Linked DNA regions of Homo sapiens. The protein of the gene in region 2 purifies or fractionates together with the protein of the main gene of each other region. This does not show direct contact. Each region holds a gene or a part of one and is shown on either strand. Other genes may lie near its edges.

The links.
Region 1: the proteins of NPLOC4 (region 2) and ASPSCR1 purify together in Homo sapiens (affinity purification with mass spectrometry; 3 studies listed by BioGRID and IntAct, with this or other methods). This does not show direct contact.

Annotation. Positions count from the first base shown.
Region 1 is NC_000017.11:82,008,616-82,015,637, reverse strand, and holds part of ASPSCR1 (tether containing UBX domain for GLUT4), read right to left. Parts: intron 6,602-7,022; coding exon 6,447-6,601; intron 6,153-6,446; coding exon 6,071-6,152; intron 4,837-6,070; coding exon 4,770-4,836; intron 4,096-4,769; coding exon 4,033-4,095; intron 3,483-4,032; coding exon of another isoform or gene 3,408-3,482; coding exon 3,355-3,407; intron 564-3,354; coding exon of another isoform or gene 282-563; intron 1-281. UniProt on the Homo sapiens protein: Tethering protein that sequesters GLUT4-containing vesicles in the cytoplasm in the absence of insulin. Modulates the amount of GLUT4 that is available at the cell surface. Enhances VCP methylation catalyzed by VCPKMT.
Region 2 is NC_000017.11:81,564,099-81,571,120, forward strand, and holds part of NPLOC4 (nuclear protein localization protein 4 homolog), read right to left. Parts: intron 5,014-7,022; coding exon 4,918-5,013; intron 3,436-4,917; coding exon 3,319-3,435; intron 2,505-3,318; exon of another isoform or gene 2,373-2,504; intron 1,510-2,372; coding exon 1,407-1,509; coding exon of another isoform or gene 1,222-1,406; exon of another isoform or gene 149-1,221; coding exon of another isoform or gene 102-148; exon of another isoform or gene 1-101. UniProt on the Homo sapiens protein: The ternary complex containing UFD1, VCP and NPLOC4 binds ubiquitinated proteins and is necessary for the export of misfolded proteins from the ER to the cytoplasm, where they are degraded by the proteasome.

The DNA of each region.
Region 1 (7,022 bases), 440 kb from region 2:
CTGCTGTGGGCACAGGAGCCCTGGCCAGCCCCATCTGCATCCCACCTGCTGCCGGGCGAGAGGGCTCCCTCAGAGGCCACCGATGCAGAGAGGCACCTGGTTCTCATCATAGCCCCCACAGGCCAGGACCCCCAACCAGCACTGCCCCACGGGACGCACAGAAAGGGGCGGGCAGGACTCGGGAACACCAGGAGAGGGAAGTAGGCTTGGCAGCCAGGCCTGGGGCACCTGGGCTCCCTGTCTGCGCCTCTGTGCAGGGAGCACTGAGCCAGGCAGCCTACCCGGCCTGTCCCCACGTGCTTGTGCCCAGCCTTGACTCGGGAGGGATCGCCACTGCTCGGACGAGGGGATGGTGGAGAGGAGGGTCGGCAGACTGGGTGGCATGGAGGCTGACCAGTGCTTGGAGAGGCTCGGCCTCTGGATGGACCCCAAAAAAGAAGCCTCCCAGAGTCCACGTCGCCTCCATCTCCTACCACTGGCAAGCGTGTTCTCTGCTCTGGTCCCAGGCACCGTTTCAGCGAGGGACCCAGGGTGAATGGAGCCACCCGGTCACCAAGCTGGGGCTGGAAAGGGAAAGTGGGTCACACCGTCCCCCCAGCCAGAGCAGGGCCCGGGAAGGGCCTTTGAGGGAGGCACAGGCTGAGGGGCCTCTCCCCACCAGCACTGTCCCAGGATGTCTCAGGCTGCCCCTGCCTGGCTCCCTCGGCTGACAGGGAGAAGTGGGGGTGCCCGCCCTGCCCTGACACAGCCTGAGGGCCTGGAGCCGGCCCCTCCCTAGCTGCCGCCCAGGACACTGGGGCCCCAAATCCAGCCGCCTCTCTGCTGCCAACCCCTTGCCCCACTCAGTGTTGCCAGGAAGAGCTTCCGAAAGGAGGCCCACGTCAACCCCCACGGGGCAGCAACTCTGTAGGGGCTGCATGCACACGTGGCCCAGCGCCTGGCCGCCCCCTCCAACGAGAACAGCACCACCCTCCGGGGAACGAAGCCAAGAGAGGAGCCCTTGCAGCTCAAGACGCCCGGGAGGGAGGCGGCACCACAGCGCCTGGGAGGGAGGCGGCACCACCGTGCCCGGGAGGAAGGCGGCACCACAGTGCCTCGGCAGGGAGATGGCACCACAGAGCCCGGGAGGGAGGCAGCATCATGGTGTCTGGGAGGGAGGTGGCACCACGGTGCCCGGGAGAGAGAAGGCACCACGGTGCCTGGGCAGGGAGAGACGGGGCATCCACCCACAGAGCGGGAGTGGGGGCTGCAGGAGCCATCCTGCCTTCTGCAAGACCATTTGTCAACGAGGAACATTTCAGAGGGTCCAGGTGGGGTAGGGCCTGGTGGGTGGAAGGAAGGGGGCCTGTTGGTCCCAGAGAGGCCCCGGCAGTGGGCGACACGGCAGTGCAGGACGGGGCTGTCCTGGGTGGAAAGGAAGGACGACAGAACTGGCTAGGGGCGGGCGCCCAGCAGGCACTCAGGCCAGAAGTGCCAGTCACGCCCTGCCAGGTGAGTGGCTTGGGGAGTGGGGAACCAGGCAGCAAGGGTGGCCTGTGTCCTGGCAGACGGTCCCCAGAGGCAGCCTGAGAGCTCCAACAAACGGAGGGTGTTAGGAGCCAGGCTTGCCCTGCCAAAGCCAATGGAAGGAAGCCCAAACAGCAGAGCCTTTGAAGAGATAAGTGAGGTGACCGTGACATCAAAGGTGGGCCTAGCCCAGGGTGACCTTCCTCATGACCTGAGGACGCGGACCGCACACAGAAGTGACTGTGTGAGGACACCAGGGCAGGGCCAGCCCTGATGCCCAGGGCCAGGACGCAGGTTTCAGGCAGGGGCGGGGGGCTTTGTTCCCCACAGTGGTGCCCCCACACTGCTCACAATTCCCTGTCCTCACTCCTGGCCGCCTCCTCCCAGCCCTCCCAGAAAACCTGCACTCTCCTGGGCCAGGGCCACAGAGGGCTGCCGGGCTACCGGAGCCCCCACACCCACGCACGCTGTCCCTCTCGGAAGCCGGGGGCCGGCCCCTGGACATCCCCCAGGCAGCAGGCAGCCGGAGTGGGGCTCTGCCAGAGACGTGAAAGCTGGTGCTTCCGCGCCCGCCGCCTGCTTGCCTGCCAGGGAGGCAGGCTTCCTTCCCTCAGCCCCGCCAGCTCTCTGACGGCAGGCAGGCAGGCAGGCACGTCACCGGGGACACCACCCCGAGAGGCCCCGAGGCTAGAGCCGAGCTGATGGAGGGCAGGAGACGGTGGCTGGTAGGGAAGCCAAGCGTCCCCAGAAACAGGGCAGCAGCACCCCAGTGCTCTCAGGGGCCTCCCAGCGGGAGGGTGGGCTGCAGGCCTGGGCACTGGTCCTCCTCCATCCCAAGGCATCTTCCAAATTCAATGTTTATCAACTGGCTGGCCAGCAAGGGAGGGGATGGAGACGGAGGAAGGAGGCCCGGAGTCCGCCCGGCAGCTCGGGGGCTGAGAGGGGACTGTCTCACCCCTCCCCTGCCTCCGCTGCAGGGAATCCCGCTCAGTCCTGCTCCTGATCACCCCTGGCAGCTGCCAGCCTTCTTGCCCCAGCTCAGTAAGCGGCTGCAGCCCCAGGCAGTGAGCAAGCTTCTCACCTCCAACCCAGGCCTCTGTAGAGGCCTGTGGCCACTTAAAAAAAAACCCGCCTCTGTGGCTAATTAAAATATCTGAAGAGGCTTTGAAGAGGAAACCATTAGGCCAGAGGGCTTCGGAAGGCCCCAGGCAGCTCTCCCACAGGCCAAGGACAGGACATTCATTGCTTCTGGCTCTGGAGGGCGGCCCAGCAGGGCTGGGAACCCGGCACCCTCACCCTGGCCCCACCCTCAGGAGCCCTCAGGGAGGTGGCAGGGACCCACAGAAGCAGCGGACAGCTATGGGCACCAGGGCGTTCCTAGCAGGGACCGGGGGGCCAGCGGGAGAGGCCGGGCAGGGGGAAGGGGCAGCTGAAGCCCAAGGCGGCCGCCTCCAGCTGAGGGCCTGGTCCCTCTGGGGCTCCCTGAGCCCTGCTCCGAGGCCTGCCGGGCCCTTCCTCACCCAGACCCCTGGGCAGGGACTGCTGCCGCCTTGGCCCCAGCACAGCAGCCCAGGGGGGCCGAGACCTCCAAGCGGCCTCAGTTCAGGCAGGCCGCCTAGCAGGTCCTTTCCCACCCGGGGCCAGGCAGGAAGCAGAGGAGGCCGGAAAGCCGTGTCAGAAGCAACTTCAGAGGCGCACGGCCCCCTCGGAACCCACCGGCTCTCAAAGGCTTTATTATCCTGCCCCAGCGCCTGCCAGGCCCCTCCTTCCTGCCCGAGGCCTCACGCTCTCGTCCTGCCCTCCCTGGAGGGCCCCGCCCCGCAGCACCCCAGGGAGGCCCTCAGGTACCTGAAAGAGGGTCTGCGTGTGGTCGTCCAGGACTGTTTTTGGAGGGGTGATGACTGAGGAGAGAAGGCACCTACGTGTTAGGAAGCACCGTGGACCTCGCCCATCCATGCGCCCGAAGGAAGACAGGCCTGCAGATGGGGGTGACGCCTCAAGTGGGGCAGAAGAGCCCCTCACGAGCACGCCCTGTGCCCACACTCCTGCTGCAGAAACTCCAGCTGAGGGCTCGGAAGGGCCGGTGGGGGGCAGGCCCACCTGCAGGGGACACCACCCGTGCAGCCCGGCTCCCCTTGCAGTGGGCAGCCTAACCCTTTGCCACCTAGACACCCTCCAAGGGAGGCCAGCCACTCCCTGTCCACCCACCCTTCCCACAGCCCTCGGGCAGGAGTGGCCTGAGCCCCAGGGGTGGGGACCAGGCTGGGGTGCAGCAGGGCTCCAGAGGGGAGCAGGGCGCTGAGAGAGAAGGCAGGAAGCCTGGCTCCCACCGCCTGGCTCGGGGAGAAGGGCCCTCCTAGGTCTCCACACAGACACCATGGGCTGCAGGAGGCACCTGGGCGGGAGGCCACAGATGCTGCTCCTGTGGAGAAGCTGCCACGAGCCCCAGCTGGGACGGGCGGTGTGCCCACAGCACCAAGGCCCCGAGCACTGGAGGCAGGAGTGGGCTCAGGAGAAAAAACGTACACAGGTAAAATGACAGCTCGGGGTTCCCCAGGTGGCTCCTCACGAAGTCTCGCAAGTCCCCCACTGCAGAGGAGAAAAAGAACATACAGACAGCTCTTCCACCACGCCAGCCCCGGGCTGCCCCAGCACCTGGGCCACTGCTCCCACCCTCCTGGGCCTTTCCCCGAGGGGTGGGAATTCAGCCCTGTTCCTCCCACAGCACTCCAGGTGCTCGGCGTGGCTGGGCCACCGTGCGGGCCACACTTGGGACCCCCGCCCTGCTGGAGAGCACTCCCACTGCCACCCGCTGCCCCCCAGCCCCACCCCCGCCCCAGCCTAAGCGCTTCCCTTTCCCTGGGGGAGGCCCCTGTGACCTTGGGCTGCTGCCGCCCGGCCGTCTGGGTACAGGTCACAAGCCCCTGAATGTCACAGCACCACTGCCCTCCTCCCGGGGTAGGGTGCCTTCCTCTGGGTGCCCCTCTGCCCCACCCATGCCCAGTAGGTGGGCGACGTGAGCACTCAGGACCACGGGCTCCCTGAGCTGGGGCCGGGCACCTGGAGCAAGCGCCCAGCCTGCCTGACACTCTGCGAACTGGGATGCCTCTGCACCCCCAAGGGGACATCAGCACCCGCACCCACCCAGTGCCCTGGAGCCCGCAGGCCAGGTGGCTGCAGTCCTGTGGCCTGGAAGGAAGGAGCCGGGAGAGGCCCCATGGGCCCCTGCCCCCCATCCCCGGACACCCCACAGCGCTGCCCACCTGTCTCGCTGGGGCGGAAGAAGCCCTGTAGGACGTAGCGGTCGGGGAACAGGACCCTCAGAGCCACCTAGGCCAGACAAGTGGAAGGGTTGGAGGGACGGCCGGAGCTGCACCAGGGACCAGGGCGTGGCCTCCCCACTCGGCCCATGCTGGGCCATGGACACCAGGGCTGAGGCAGGCAGAAGCAGCCACCCCCAATCAGGGCCTGGGCTTTGACTCCCCCGTGGCAGGCTGGGCATGGAGACAGCCAAGTGCCGTGTGTGTGCACAGCGGCCTGCGTTCTAAAACCACACTGACCTGGGTTCAAATGTGCTGGTTTTTTTTTTTTTTTTTTTTTTTTGAGATGGAGTCTCACTCTGTCGCCCAGGCTGGAGTGCAGTGGCATGATCTCGGCTCACTGTAAGCTCCACCTCCCGGGTTCACGCCTTTCTCCTGCCTCAGCCTCCCGAGCAGCTGGGACTACAGGCGTGCGCCACCTCTCCTGACTAATTTTTTGTATTTTTAGTAGAGATGGGGTTTCACCGTGTCAGCCAGGATGGTCTCGATCTCCTGACCTCATGATCCGCCCACCTTGGCCTCCCAAAGTGCTGGGATTACAGGCGTGAGCCACCACGCCCGGCTCAAATGTGCTGTTTAAAGTTTCATTCAGCCAGGTGTGGTGGCTCAAGCCTGTAATCCCAGAACTTTGGGAGGCCGAGGCGGGCAGATCACCTGAGGTCAGGAGTTCGAGACCAGCCGGGCCAACATGGTAAAACTCCATCTCTAGTAAAAAAAAAAAAAACAACAAAAATTAGCCGAGCTAGTGGTAGCGGGTACCTGAAATCCCAGCTACTTGGGAGGCTGAGGCAGGAGAACCACTTGAACCCGGGAGGCGGAGCTTGCAGTGAGCTGAGATGGCACCACTGACTCCAGCCTGGGCGACAGAGAGAGACTCCGTCTCAAAAAAAAAAAAAGGTTTCATTCTAAATCATGAGCAGGGGAGGATCAACTGGCCACTAAGGGCATGCGCGCCACCACGGGGGGGCCCTGCTCAGAGCTGTGCCTCAGTCGCCCCCACGTCCCATCCACAGACCTCACAGGGGGCCCCCTCAGAGCTGTACCTCAGTCGCCCCCACGTCCCATCCACAGACCTCACAGGGGGCCCGCTCAGAGCTGTGCCTCAGTCGCCACCACGTCCTGTCCACAGACCTCACAGGGGGCCCGCTCAGAGCTGTGCCTCAGTCGCCCCATCCCGTCCACAGACCTCACGGGGGGCCCCCTCAGAGCTGTGCCTCAGTCGCCCCCACATCCTGTCTGCAGACCTTTGGGTAGCGCTCCAGCTTCTCCTTTATCTGCGCCTCCCTGAAGGCCTTGGTCACCAAGGGGGCTTCTTCCAGGCGCTTCCTGTGGTGAGGAGGGGAAGGAACAGGGCTTCTGGTCAGAATGGGGGCCCTGGCAACAGGCCCCGGGCTCCTCACCTGCACCCTCCAGGGTGGGAGTGGGCTGCTCTCCCCACACAAGGCAGGAAGGTCTGGACGCCCCTCCCTGGGCCCCAACCCTCTGAGGTCCTGTTAAGGGCAGCCTGTCAGGGACCTGGGCCGGGAGCCAGTGCTGGCACTGGGGACAGCGGGCAGCACAAGCACCCGATGGGGCAAACCCTGGCGCGAAGATGCCGGGAGGCACTGAGGGGGCACCCACCGCTCACTCTTGAGCTGGGCCAAGCGTCTTCTCACGTCGTCCACCGTCAGCTCAAAGAACTCATCAGGCAGCTCCGCTGGCCAGGCCTGCAGCCGCTCCTCCAGGTCGGGGTGGCACACCACCGGCTCCCGGTCCACGGGCTCCCGGTCCACGGGCTGGAGGCAGAGGGCGCGGCTGACGGCGGGTGTCACGGGCTGGGCCCTCCGCACCCCGGGCTGTCAGTGCCCCAGCCGAGGTGGTCACACAGACTTGGGAGCTGGGCCCACTCCCTCCCTGGCCCCGGCCAGCGCAGGGCCAAGGCCAGGTCCTGGGGGCAGGGCTGGGCACAGCAGCTGGGGGACCCCACCCCACTCAGAGCCTGTCCAGGGCTGGAGACCCCCCTCTCCCAGTCAGTGCACCAGACCTGATGCTGAGCCCCTGCTCCCCAGCAGGGCACATGGCCCCTGGAGTCTGGCTCAGGCCACGTCAGGGTCTCCATGGGGGGGAGGGGTGGCGACAGCCGCCAAATTAGAGCGTCGGCAAAAACCCCAGTCCAGCTGCCCCCGCTGCCCTCTTGGCCACAGCTCCATGGCCAGG
Region 2 (7,022 bases):
CACACACACACACACACACAAAGAGCAGGGCGGGCTGAAAAACTATTAGGTACTATGTGTAGTACCTGGGTGATGTGATCAATCATACCCCAACCTCAGCATCAGGCAATATACCCAGGTGACAAACCTGCACATGTACCCTGTGAATCTAAAATAAGTTAAAATTATTTTTAAAAAACAAACAAATAAAAAGCAACAACAAAGCCCCAAGAATTAGCTGGGTGTGGTGTTGCAAGCCTGTGGTCCCAGTTACTCAGCAGGCTGAAGCAGAAAGATCACTTGAGCCTGGAGTTTGAGGCTGCAGTGAGTTACGATTGTGCAACTGCACTCCAGCCTCGGCAATAGAGTGAGACCCTGTCTCTACAAAAATAAAAATAATAAACAAAGAATTGTGTGAAAAGAAAACCTCGGCTGGGCGTGGTGGCTCACACCTGTAATCCCAACACTCTGGGAGGCAGAGGCAAGCAGATCACAAGGTCAGGAGTTCGAGACCAGCCTGGCTAACATGGTGAAACCCTGGCTCTACTAAGAATACAAAAATTATCCAGGCATGGTGGCACATGCCTGTAGTCCCAGCTACTCAGGAGGCTGAGGCAGGAGAATCGTTTGAACCCAGGAGGTGGAGGTTGCAGTGAGGCAAGATCACGCCACCACACTCCAGCCTGGGTGACAAGAGCCAAACTCCGTCTCAAAAAAAAAAAAAAAAACAGGAAATGGTATAAAGGTGTTTGATGTGTCTTTTGAAGGCTGTGTTAACAGAAGGATTCTAGCATTTGTCCAGGGCCGTAGCTCCCGGGCACTCTGGTGCTCTCAGCTGCAGGGACTCAGGGCACTCGGGCTGCACGAGGCACCACGGTGCGTGAGGAGTCCCTGCAGCAATGCTGACAGAAGGTTCTCACGAGTGGGGAATCGTTCAGGACCTGGTGACTGAGGGTCCGGAAGACACGCAATGCCTGCGGTCCGTTCCGTAGTGTCCACCAGCAACAACATGGATGCTGCAGGCTTCTCCTCCTTACAGCTTTAAGCACTAAAGGGAAATTCTCAAGGAGACCAAAAGGTCCCACGCTTCCGGCGCTTCCATAAAGTTTCTGATTCTCTTAAGACAATGATGTTCAAAGTGCTCCTAGGATGCCTGGAGATTAGTATCTCTGATGTACAGGTTTATAAAATTTACAGGGCTGTGTACCTAAGACGTACGGCCTGGACAACATGTCTGCTCCATCACCGGAGCCTGCCACGTGCCTGGCAGGGAGGCCGAGTCTCTACTCGTTGCATTGCCGATGGCACCTGCCAGGATGCAGCTGGGTGCGGAATCCAGGGCACCACCGGCAGTGGGGAGCTGTGCAGAGTGGGCTGCTCTCCGGCCCCAGCCACGGGGTGCCGGGGCAGGGGGTGGGGGTACTCACTGCACAGCTGCTCGATGGTGGCCCACTGCTCAGACCTCTTCCATGTCTGGGCGAGCTCCTCATTTCTGGTCCGCACGGCCTCCAGCAGCAAGCTGATGCTGTCCTACAAGAAGCCAAAAGGAAGGTTCCTCTTCGCTGTGCCTAAGGTGAGCAGCTTCCTGCTAGAACAGGTTTCTTTCTCCCCAACATCAAGACGTATTTCTGAGGACATTTTAAAAATCTTACAGGCTATCACTATAAAATGCAAACTGCCACAACTTACATCTATAAACGCAAGTGCTAAATTGAACTAGAATTTAAATTCTTCCCAAATAGGCCCAAGCGGGCATCTGTGCCTCTGCCTTGTGCTGACGGTGCTCAACAGCCCGGAGGATAGGAGCTCATGCCTCTCGTCCTGGAGGCTGGGATGGAGGGCGGAAGTCTTGACTGTGAGACGTGTCCTCCTCCCTCACATTTCATCCCTCTGCCTCTTTCTCCTCTCGTGTCTGGAAAAATGCACTCTCTATCCTAGCCTTCCGAGTCAAACTGCAGGGGATTAATGCATTAAGGATGGGCGCAGTGGCTCACGCCTGTAATCCCAACACTTTCAGAGGCAGAGGCAGACAGATCACGAGGTCAGGAGTTTGAGACCAGCCTGGCAAACGTGGCGAAACCCCGTCTCTACTAAAAATACAACAATTAGACAGGCGTGGTTGCGGGCACCTGTAATCCCAGCTACTCGGGAGGCTGAGGCGGGAGAATCGCTTGAACCCAGAAGGCGGAGGTTGCAGTAAGCCAAGATTGCGCCAATGCACTCCGGTCTGGGCAACAGAGCGAGACTCCGTCTTAAAAAAAAATAATTCATATATGAGAAACGGATAAAGCCTTCAGGAGCTCTCAGTACCTCCAGAGAATGTCTTCCAACAGATGACTGCAAAAATAGTGCAGTATACTAGCAAGGTGGCTCTGGTGTAGAGGGAGCCTCACCTTTCACCACCTGTCCAGACAGATGGGCAGCAGCTGAACCTCGGAGCAGGAGGTGCAGTTCCCTGGGCTGACTAGGGAAGGCACAGGCAGGGAAGAGGCACAGGGTGCCTGATGTCAAATACCCGAGTGAGTGGTTTTGAGACAAAATACAGACACAAAATAAACTAGCAGGATACAAGAACAGCTATAGGCTTCCTGACAGAGAAAGGCCGGGGGAGGAGGAGCCTCTCTATTCTGTCTCCTTCAGGGAAAAGTTCTGAGTCAGTGGCGGAGCAGCTCAGAAAGAATTTGCTCCTTTCTCTTTGGCATTTCCTGTTGGCTTGAACAGTGAAGAAAAAGCCAAAGTCGGACCCCTACACACGGCAAGAACCTCCTGGGGGCTGCTGCCCACTGGCCCCCACTACCCAGAGCAGCCACTTCTGCAAAGCACTCGCCCTCTTCTCCCCCAACGGTGTCTCTTAAAAATGCCAACTGTGCAGCTGTGAGCTTGGGGTCTGGAAGCTGGCCAAGCCTTCTGGGCCAAGGCAATAAAACCAGAGTTGATTTAGGAGGAGGGGAGATATGAGTAAAAAGCAGAGGCTGTGACTCTGAAACTGTTAGAACAGGAATTTTTTAAACTGTCTAACTCTAATGCTGGAGGCAGAGCTAAATCACCTCTGCTTCCCATTCGATTGTAACAGATGAAACCGTACTTCCTCACAGAGGTGCAGACACTCAATGGAAATGCTAAAGGTGAAAAAATTAATCTTTCTATCAACAAGCTTCTTGTGAAAAGCTGCTGCCTACACTCTGCCCATAGGACAAATGAGGGGGACAACCTGTGACCCCGAGCTTTGACCCAGTTTCCCAATCATGCTCTGGTCTGGGAGGAAAGAAAGCAAGACACAGGCGTCTCTTTGCAGCCAAAGCCCACTTGCTCAAGTGGACACCACACTTGGACACGCACCTGCAGAGGCATAACTTCATTGGTGACCAGGAACAGCAAGAGGTGGAAATCTGAGATGGTATCCAAGAACACAGATGAGGTATTCTGAGACAAATAGGTGGCCAAGCTATGGAAGTCCTAGAGGAATGGGAATAAACATGAATGTTCCATACAGTTCCCCAGTGCCAGACCCCGAAACAGAGCTGTTTCCTACTAAGACGCAACTCAATACACTGAATGCTGAGACACCTCTCCCTCTGCCTCTGCAACCACGAACAGGGTCCAAGAAAGAGGAGCAGGCAGCTGCAAAGCAAGCTCTTGCTCTCTTCTCCCAAGAAGATGCTCTCAGCACACCTGACTACCCAGATGTGCAAGGAGACATGCTTATAAAGCTGACTCAGACTGGCCAGGTGTGGAGGCTAACACAGTAATTCCAGCACTTTTTAGGAGGCCGAGGCAGGCAGGTGGTCAGGAGTTCGAGACCAGTCTGGCCAACATGGCGAAACCCCGTCTCTACTAAAAATACAAAAAAAATTACCCAGGCTTGGTGGCGCGCACCTATAATCCCAGCTACTCAGGAGGCTGAAGCAGAAGAATCGCTTGAACCCAGGAGGTGGAGGTTGTAGTGAGCCAAGATCGCACCACTGCACTCCAGCCTGGGTGATAGAGTGAGACTCTGTCTTCCAAAAAAAAAAAAAAAAAAAAAAAAAGGCTGACTCAGACAGAGACACAAACATGGAAATGCGCCCTGGTCCCCCGGTGGAGAGTGGGCTGCGGGAGGGGCCTGGGGCCCCCTTCACGGCAGGGAGACAGGTCTGACTTTTCCTGTCGAGCTGTATTCTCCATCTAGGGCAGCAAGAGGGAGGAATGTGCAGGGCAGCCGTGATGCAGCACGGACATCTTCAGCAGAACCAAACACAGAGCTTCAAGAGTGCACCCCAATAACTGGCTTTGCACCTCTGTGAGCACCCCAAGTCCCCTGGGCGGATGGGCACTGAGGGGATCAAAGCATAGAAGAAGCTTTGTCAGCCACTGAAGAAAACCTCATTATAGACATTCTTTGACCACCTTCTGAAATGTCTGTTAGCAAGTTATGATTTAAGAACAACCATGTGTACACAGCCTGTCTACACAGTATGCAGGCGTGACAGCAAATCGGACCTGGCCTGATCTGCCAGTGAGAGCAGAGGCCAACACGGGAGCCACGCTAAGCAGCAGATCAACACTACACACGGGAAAGCCGAGGCCAGGCCGAGAGGGGCCACACAGCCCCAAGGTGCCTAAGAAGGGCAGCAGGTGACCAGGCAGGGGCCAGGCCAAACCAACAGTGACGAGGCTGCTGGCAGAAGACACAAAGCAACACATTTGGGAAAATTACGAGGTCCACTGAAGATGTGGCCAGTCAGGACGTCAGGGGATTAGCCTTTGTGGCCGTCCATCACCTAGCCATGGGAAGGGCGTCCACGTGACCAGCAGTGCCCCACAGTAGGCCCTAGCTGGCCTGTCACAAGAATGAATCGGGAGCATTTGAAAGCTTGATGTTTTCTGGAAAAACAATACTGACACTAGATAACAATCAGCAGTTACCTTAAATTATGTTTCTAAAGACAAAGAGCTCACCTGTGTCTCACCCAATACATCCCGGTTTTCAATAGGAAATGGATTTTGCGAAATAGAAAAAGTGTAAACTGGATCCTTGGGGAAAGTTGTTGTGATCTAATGAAGAAAAACACAAACCCATGATAAATGAGGCTGAAAATGGTGTGGCCGACTCCCAGCCAGCCCAGAGCATCTCCCAGAGCCCAAATTAACGACTCCTAGCAATTCTGAGAATGTTCTACAAGCTCTCCATCAAAGGGAACCGTTATCTATTAGTGTCATCTCTAAACGAACACTTGGAAACTCCGCCATCCTGGAGACAAACTACACCATATCCGGGCAGCCTCCGGCCTGTGCACCGGCCTCGACGTCGGACAAAAAGGGCACTGGGACTCCCCTCGTGGCACAGCTTCCCTTCAGAGTCACACAGGTTCTCTCCCTCTGCTATGGAGGAACGAAAGGCTGGTTTGGCCCCTTGGCCAGGTGACAGGAAAGGAACGGAAGGGCCAGGAGGCCGCCCCAGGAGCTGACTTTGCTCAAGAGAGATTCGTGTCATTGGATTCGGAGGGCAAATGAGCAATCAGCCAGCTTTCAAGACACAAAGCACCCTTCAGCAGCTCACTAAGCCCCTTCTGAATGCTGGGAGCCACTCCACGGAGCTGTGGGCTTTTCCAGGCAGGGGTGAATGTAAGGCCCTTGAGGAACACAGGGTTCAGCTCTTCTCTCTCCCTCAGAGCTGATACCCAAAGGCCAGCTAAGTCCTTCAGTCCTTCACTGGCTCAGACAGGCCTTAATGACAACAGAGGGCACTTTGCACCTAAGATATAATCAATAGATGCTACAGGGACAGTGGTAAATGTGCAAGAATCAATAGAAATACCACTTTTATTCTTCGTGACAGACACCCCTCCCCAAAGCAGCACCGAGTTGAGTTGATGCTGCTTTTCTCTGCAACACAACAGCAGCAGCAGAGGTCACACCTCTTCCAGATTTAGGGGAACTATTCTGGTTCCTTTGGGACTATTTCTAAAGAATGAGTGTGGTTCTGGTCTGTTTTCTGCATCAGCAAAGGCAGTGAGTTGTTGAGCTAGCTGGCCCAGGATTTGCTGTGCCAGCGCCAGCCGCTGTGGAAGGACAGCTGAGCCACCAGCAGCATCTCTGGCCTGAGCTGGCCCTTCATGGGCAAGCGGCGGGGTGGGTCATGAAGACTCGGGCCGCGGTGCCACGTGTCGGCTACATGGCCTCGTCAGTTAGGGATCCTGGGCCTCACTTTACTCTTCCTCAGGATGAAGATGATCGGAGTACTCGCCTCCTGGGTGCCCAGCACGGGGCTGGTACACATAGTGTTGGTACACACAGTGCTGGGTCCCAGCTGAAGACAGGGGAGGTGCTGACCTCCTGCAGAGACAAAAGCCTGGCCTGCTCAGGCGCGTCCCTTGGGAAGGCCTAGAAATGAAGAAGGCGGCACCCCCAGAACACGTGCTAGTGAGTGAGCTAGTGGGACTGACGGGGGCTCTTGCTGGCCTTGTAACTGGCCCTTGGAGGGGAACAGAACCAAAGTCCACACAGCCCATCCCAGATGTCCCAAGGAAGGGCATCAGCTCCCATCTTACACTGAAGCCATTTCCCTACCCTACCCATCGTCTATCAGCCAGATGATGCCCCCAGAACCCACAAAGAAACCCCAGTAACACTGGCTGGTGCCTTTTCCTGCCTGCCCAGCCATCCCATCCCAAGGTTTAAGAACCTTGGCTGAGGCCAGCGCCTGTGGCCCAGGGCTGGGCATGGAGCTTGACACACCTCTCTGGGCACCTGCTCTCAAGGACTCCCCATGCCTCACTTCCACAGGGTCAAGGAGCCTGGGCATCACAGAGCAGAATGCTCTCCCACAAACAAGTACTTCTGAAAAACTGCACTAAGGCAAAAACTTAACTTCCTTTATAAAAGAAGAGGAAAGAAGTGGGGAGGCTGCTTGGGGTAGAAGACCTGAGAAAGCTGGTTTTAAATCATGCCTGCTCCTCCTGGGTGCATGCTCCATCAATCTGTTTTCATCTTAATTACACCCTAGGTAGTCTAAAAACCAGATGCCTTCACGGCCTAGGTAATAAATATGTTCTCGGGAGCTG